Regions from separate parts of the Homo sapiens genome. Here region 2 is reported to be linked to region 1. Evidence: microRNA targets listed by miRTarBase, many of them from high-throughput screens and not tested one by one. Region 1 holds a microRNA gene; the other region holds the end of a gene's coding sequence.
The links. The annotated mature microRNA hsa-miR-3150b-5p reads CAACCUCGAGGAUCUCCCCAGC and lies in region 1 at 942-963, shown strand. An mRNA with a match to its seed (bases 2 to 7 or 8) in the 3' UTR can be bound and repressed. Matches are read on the target gene's strand: a 7mer-m8 pairs with bases 2 to 8, a 7mer-A1 pairs with bases 2 to 7 and ends in A, and an 8mer does both.

Region 2: the mRNA of RFX2 is a reported target of hsa-miR-3150b-5p. Seed matches in the 3' UTR shown: 7mer-m8 at 2,743-2,749.

What each region holds. Positions count from the first base shown.
Region 1 is chr8:95,070,711-95,073,923 of GRCh38, reverse strand. It overlaps MIR3150B (microRNA 3150b), which reads left to right and starts at 928; the gene lies at 928-1,013. MIR3150BHG (MIR3150B host gene) reads left to right here and starts at 742. Exons shown (of 2, transcript NR_132986.1): 1 at 742-995. It overlaps MIR3150A (microRNA 3150a), which reads right to left and starts at 1,010; the gene lies at 931-1,010. It overlaps LOC124901980 (a long non-coding RNA gene), which reads left to right and starts at 1,671. Exons shown (of 2, transcript XR_007061013.1): 1 at 1,671-2,178; 2 at 3,107-3,213. It also overlaps a transcript of NDUFAF6 not described here. RefSeq lists a silencer at 436-535.
Region 2 is chr19:5,992,065-5,995,064 of GRCh38, forward strand. RFX2 (regulatory factor X2) reads right to left here. Exons shown (of 18, transcript NM_000635.4): 18 at 1,100-2,886. The coding sequence ends at 2,771. All of the region lies in intron 1 of RANBP3-DT (RANBP3 divergent transcript), which reads left to right. Among named protein-coding and RNA genes, the nearest start is that of RANBP3-DT, 15 kb to the left of the region's middle.

The DNA of each region.
Region 1 (3,213 bases):
GTTCAAATTTCCACTAAAGTTTTAAGTTTCCATTAAAAGCAGTTGATTTGAATCAGGATTCAAATTAGGACATCAGGTTGGGATTGGTTGGCAGGTTTTAAAGTCTCTTTTACTCTTTGGGTTTCTCCCCTACCCTCTGGAGAGAGCTCCCCACACCGTGGCTTTGCTGACTGCATTCCTTGGGTGGACTTTCACTTGTGCCTCTGTCCTCGACATGTCCTGTAAGCTGGAAGCCGGGATCAGATTCAGATCCATTTTTATTTTAAGTGTTATGCAAAAAGACACCCAGTGAAGGTGTTAGAATGAGCCATGGCAGTGGATGGGGTTCGCAGGACCCCTGCGGAAGGGGGACGTTTAAGGGGCAAGCGGAAAAGGAGACACCTGGAATGGGGGAGGAGGAGCAGCGGGGCGAGGCGGGGGCGGTGCCGCGTGGTCTGCGAGCCCGGATATTCCCTGGGGAGCGCACCTGCGACTTCACCTCCAGTCCCTCCCCGGCTGGGGCAGCGGGGCGCGGGCGCTCGGGAGAGGTGGCGCTGCCTACTCGGCCTCATCTTGCTGAGAATGCGACGGGGCGACAGCTTCCTGTCTTTTCCAGTGGCTTTTGGCATCCCCAGAGGAAAAAACGGGGAGACCCGCTTTGGCCTCAGGAAGCGCAGAAACACTGTCCTGGCTGCGCGCGCAAGGGCGAGAACCTAGGGGACCCGCCTAAAGCGCCGTTGGGGCTGAGCACCGAACTCGCACAGCTCCGGGCAGCGACCCGCGATGCGGCATCCTTCCGTCCGGTCGGAGCCCTCCTAGCCCTCAGCGCGTCTATTCCTAGCTTCGGTCCCCGCAGCCATATAAGCAATGACACCCTCGCCGACTCGCCTGCCAGCTTGGCCGCCTCCCTGCAGAGGGCTGACGCTTCTCCAGAAGTTGTAAGAAAAGGAGGGAAAGCAGGCCAACCTCGAGGATCTCCCCAGCCTTGGCGTTCAGGTGCTGAGGAGATCGTCGAGGTTGGCCTGCTTCCCCTCACTCCTCGGGCCTTGCTCTTCCCCCAGGTGCCCACTGCCCTCCCTGCTGTGTACCACTTTCTTGCTGCCTGTGAAGGTATTTGTCCTCACTCTTGTGCTGCTCCTTCAATGATAGAACTTTGGGACTTTCTCATCCAGCAGCACCAGCCTGAAAAAGCAGTGGCTTGCACCACCACACACATACCTGGTCTCAGGTGGGTGGATCAGGGCAACTTGGCCACTAGTGCCCCAGTAATGCCCATCTGCCCAACCTCAATGCAGGAGCAACAAGTATTTCTCTGTCTTGGAGAGATCTAGAAAAAGGCTGAACATACCACGAGGGTGTTGCTTCAGAAGAAAATGCTGGTCAGGGTTCCAAGCCATCATAGGAACTTGTGAGCTGAGAAACATGGTCAACTCTACTCTCTCTCTCTTCTCTACCTACCCAGGCAGCCACAAATCTCAGTGTCAGTCACTGCTTTGGTTTGACATCTAAGGGCTCTGTTACAAGGGTAACTAAGATGAGTACCAGTAGATGCCCAATGACACTTGTAAACATGAAAGTGTATACCAGTATAAAGGATGCTGCAGCCTCAGCCTTGAAAAGTAAGGCTTTTAGGGAATGAAACAAAGGATAGTCAGGTTCTTAGGGGACAGGGAGGGTTCTGGCATGGGGAGCAGCCCTGGGCAGGTCTGGGGGTGCTGCGAAGTAGGGCACCGCAACATAACGGCCCTGTGTCTTAGGTGGCCAGGAAGGGGAAGGCAGGAGATACAGAAGGAAAGGAAACTAACATTTTATTGAGACAGGCATTGTGCTGGTCCTGAGGTTTATGCGAAGATTAATTTCTGGGGGTGAGAAGGTAAAAAATGATGAGGTGGAAACCAGCATCTTCTGTTACTCCCATCTGTGCAGAGTTAAAGAAGACTTGAAAGAAGGGGATGTGAGTGGCAGGAAAATCCCCAGTGACCGGCCCTGAACCTTCTGCCAGCGCAGCTCACCTCCTCCCCAAATGCCTCCCAATAGGATCTCAGCCCTAAACAAGCACAGGGCGTGGGGTGGTACAGATGATGATGTAGCTGCTTCTGAGATGCCCCTGGGCGCTGCTGGAGCTGAGCCCTGGGACTGGAATGACTTTTGCCCGCTGCCCTCAAAATTCCCACAGGCCACACCGCTACCACCTCTTGGGTAAAGTAGGAGGGACACATCTCCACCACCATCCAAATTGTTACCTAATGAGGAATTTTGCCAGGAACTACTTACAGCCCAATGGAGCCAGGCTGGGTATTTCCAGGACATGAGCCATTTTCTCTGTGCCCACTAAACAGGGTGCAGGTCCCTGAAGCCCTCAGGGAAGCTGCAAAGGTTACTGGGGTCGGCTCTGGGGCAACAGCTGACCTCTTAGCTCCCACTGCAGGCGTAGGAACCTCCAGGACAGCCTGTGGGGGTGGTGAGTCTGCAAAGCTGGCTGGCTAATGAGGGTGCAGTGCTGGTAGTGTCTGCCTTATGCTTTTTTTTTTTTTTTTTTTTCTTTTGGAGACGGAGTCTCGCTCTATCGCCCAGGCTGGAGTGCAGTGGTGAGATCTCGGCTCACTGCAAACTCCACCTCCCAGGTTCACGCCATTCTCCTGCCTCAGCCTCCCGAGTAGCTGGGACTACAGGCGCCCGCCACAATGCCCGGCTAATTTTTTTTTTTTTTGTATTTTTAGTAGAGACGGGTTTTCACCGTGTTAGCCAGGATGGTCTTGATTTCCTGACCTCGTGATCCGCCCACCTCAGCCTCCCAAAGTGCTGGGATTACAGGCTTGAGCCACCGCGCCCGGCCGGTTGCCTTATGCTTTAATATTAATCATATGGTATGAACACATGCAAAGCTAGCTGGTTTTACTGTTTAGGAAAGTAGATTTAATTTCTATGTGATCTGGATTATCACCATTATTATTTCCTTGGTATAGAAATTGCTTTTTACTGCTTGTGTTTTTCTAAAATTATATTCTCCCTCTGACCAAGGCAAGTAATAAAGGGCAGATGACTCGGGGAGGGGAGGGGAATAGGAAAAAAATCATGGGAGATATGCTTCAAAACCAATAGAGAGTTTTTCTGTTTTTAATTTCAGTTGAATTGCAAAGCAAAGACCCATAGAAGTGAACTGTGATACCAGAAATTCTCTGCCCAGCTTGAAGTTGTTGATATATTATAATCCTTATGTGTGACGTTAATGGT
Region 2 (3,000 bases), not on the chromosome of region 1:
CGGGGCACTGGCCTGGCACTCGGGAAACTGGCCTGGCTGACCAGCAACTGTACTAGCCTCTGTGGGCCACCCTCCCTCCCGCAGGTGGGCCCTGCCTGGTTCCTGAGCCCATTGCTCTCCTCTGTAGGGTTTCTTCAAAGTCCTATAGCCCCGCACCACAGTCCCCTGAGAGGGAATGGCAGCAACAACACGCTTCCTGGCTCCTACCCGAATCTCACCGAGTCATGCTCCTTGTGAAATGGGTCCAGGAATCGGCCATTTTTGAGCAAGCTCATGCACTGATTCTCAATGATTCTGAAGTTTGGCCCGAGTAAACCCTGCGGACAACCAGGGGTTCGCATCCGAGACTGGCACACCCGCTTCCTCCGCTAGATCCGAGTGGGTCTAGCCTGTAACAAATGTAAACAGGAGGCTGGGGCGGTGGCTCACGCCTGTAATCTCAGCACACTGGGAGGCCAAGGTGGGAGGATCGCTTGAGCCAAGGAGTTTGAGTCCAGCCTGGGCAACACAGGAAGACCCCCATCTCTAAAAAAAAAAAAAAAAAAAATTAGCTGGATGTGGTGGCGCACGCCTATAGTCCCACCTACTTGGGGAGGCTGAGGTGGGAGGATCACCTGAGCTCAAGAGGTTGAGGGTGTAGTGAGCTATGATAGTGCCACTGCACGCCAGCCGAGGTGATAGAATGAGACCGTCTCTTAAAAAAACAAACAAACAACAGAAAAAAACCCAAAGTGTAAACAGGAGCCATTGACCATCCTGGACAAAGAACGGTTTCTGCGCCATCACTGGCTCAGGATAGGCCTTGCTAAGGAAGTAAGGGGCCCAGGCTCCTTCCGGAAGGCACTAGAACATCCCCAGGGAGCCCGCAGGCAAGTGCAGGGGGCACCTCTGTGGTTTCCCCTCTGGGTCTTGAGTGGGGCAGGCCCGGCAGGCTGGTGTCCCACGGCGGGGGGACAGGGCCTAGAGTGTGGACAGTGAGTCCAAAAATGGGCACGCTCAGTGTGTTTACTGCTATGAAAAATGAGACCAGGCCTGAGAGGCTTGTGGCTTCGCTGCCACCTCTGTTCCTCCTCGTGGATCGGAAAGACAGGCCAGAGCCTAAGGCAGAAACCAGCTTGTATTGGTTACCAGGAGTGAGGAAAAGCCGGGCATTACAATCCGTTAACTGTGAGCTTCAGTGTCTCCAAGGAGAGGAGATGTATATTTTAAAGACATTCTTTCTGTCTGATTTCAACTAAGGTTTGGGCTATACGACCAGACAAACAGTGTGATTATTCCCAGCTTTTCGTTTCTAAAGTGAGCACGCGTCTTTGTCTTCCTGCACCCCTCACTCTGGCGCAGGCCCAGCGATGCTCTGAGCTCCTGCGGGCGGGGAAGTAGGTTTTTAAAGGCCACGTGAGCTGACATTAGTACCTTCTGTGTGAATGAGAACAAAACATTTGGGACTGAATATACTGCAATGTACACATTCATAAGAAACGTTCTAATAACAATTAGCGCACAAAACTATTGGTATAAACATTTTTCCAAAAAGAGAAAACTATTGCATTTCGTTAGAAATCGCGTCCTGGGCCGAGGCTCGTCTTTCTTCTCTGCAGTTGGTTTGGGGACAGAACTCCAGCACGCAGCTGTCCAACTGCAGCGGCTACGTGTTTCCATGGAGACAAACTTGGTGTCTCAAGTTCAGGGCTTCGAAAGTCCCGAATATTTGTTTGTCCCGAGAGAAGAGTTTTGACTTTGAAGAGGTCCAGGTGGGACTCGCTGGGGGTGGGGTGCTCCGGGATTAGTTCAGAGGGAGGTGTTCTGGAAGACTCCGTGGAGCGGGACGCAGGCACTGCTGTTTGGACGACACGCGGGATGGCTGCTTTCTGAAGTTGTGGCTGTGACACTGACCCTGTTGGACAAACTCCTTCCACAGCCAGTGGCTTGATGGTGACGGTGAACTTGGACAGAGTCCCACATCCTTCCTGCTGCTGATAAAACTTCTGGTTTTGATTTTTTGAAAGACACTGCTGTGTCCTGGCACGAGCGAGCCCGTTTCTGTGGCTTGTTCTTTTTCGAGCTGCGGATCTGCCGGGACACAGCGATTGTCAGCTGCCCCTCAAGTCCTTTGGCATCTGGAGATGGGTTCCTGCAGCACAGCCGGCCTCCCGCCTCGGGGCATCCGGCAGGGAGGTCTGGATCTAAAAGGCCACAGGGCGCTGCGCCCAGCTGGGTCCCTCCCACATGGTGCTACCAGACAAGGGCACTCCACTTTCCATTCCTGAGGGGACTCCAGGGACGCTGGCGAGCTCTGTGCCTCCCCAGCGGTGGCAGGTAGGAGGGGAGAGGCCGTCCCTTTCTAGTCGGGCTCTGCCAGGTTTTTTTAATTTTTAAAATCATGGTGAAAATTGGTTCCAGTTGAGTGCAGAGGCCAGTGCTCTCAGCACAGCCCTTTCAGCTCTTAAAGGGACTGGGGCCAAAGTCCAGGGTTCCAGCAGAGGAGGGTTTGTCCAGAATAAGGAACCCATGGTCTGGTGGGGCCCTGGTGGCTGCGCAGGGACCTGGGGACCCAGAGCACAGCTACAGCCAGTGGGAGCCCTGGCCTGGGCTTCTGTAGCTTCAACAACTGCTTTCCTTCTTGAACACTGACCCCGGGAGCCCCCGCTTGAGTCAAAGTAAACATCACATCATCTAAGAGGCACTAATTTGGTGGAGCCGGTGAAATCCAGGTTCCCAGAGTGACCAGGCGGCATCTTTTGGAACCTCGAGGAGGCGCCGGCCGGGGCTGCTAGATGCCCTGCAGGGAGTGGTTGGGGTCACTGCGCTCCCGCTTTACCAGGGGCTCACCCAGGCTGCGGGCGTCTGGGCCCGCCTCGCTGCCACGCTGCTCATCGCCCATGTCATCTGCGGAGGGAGGGGTAGGGTCAGTGTCCATCATCAGGAGGGCACGAGAGGGAGAGAAGGAAGTGCACGTTCCGAGAACTGCTCCGGCACGCCAGGCAGGGCACCGAGGATACA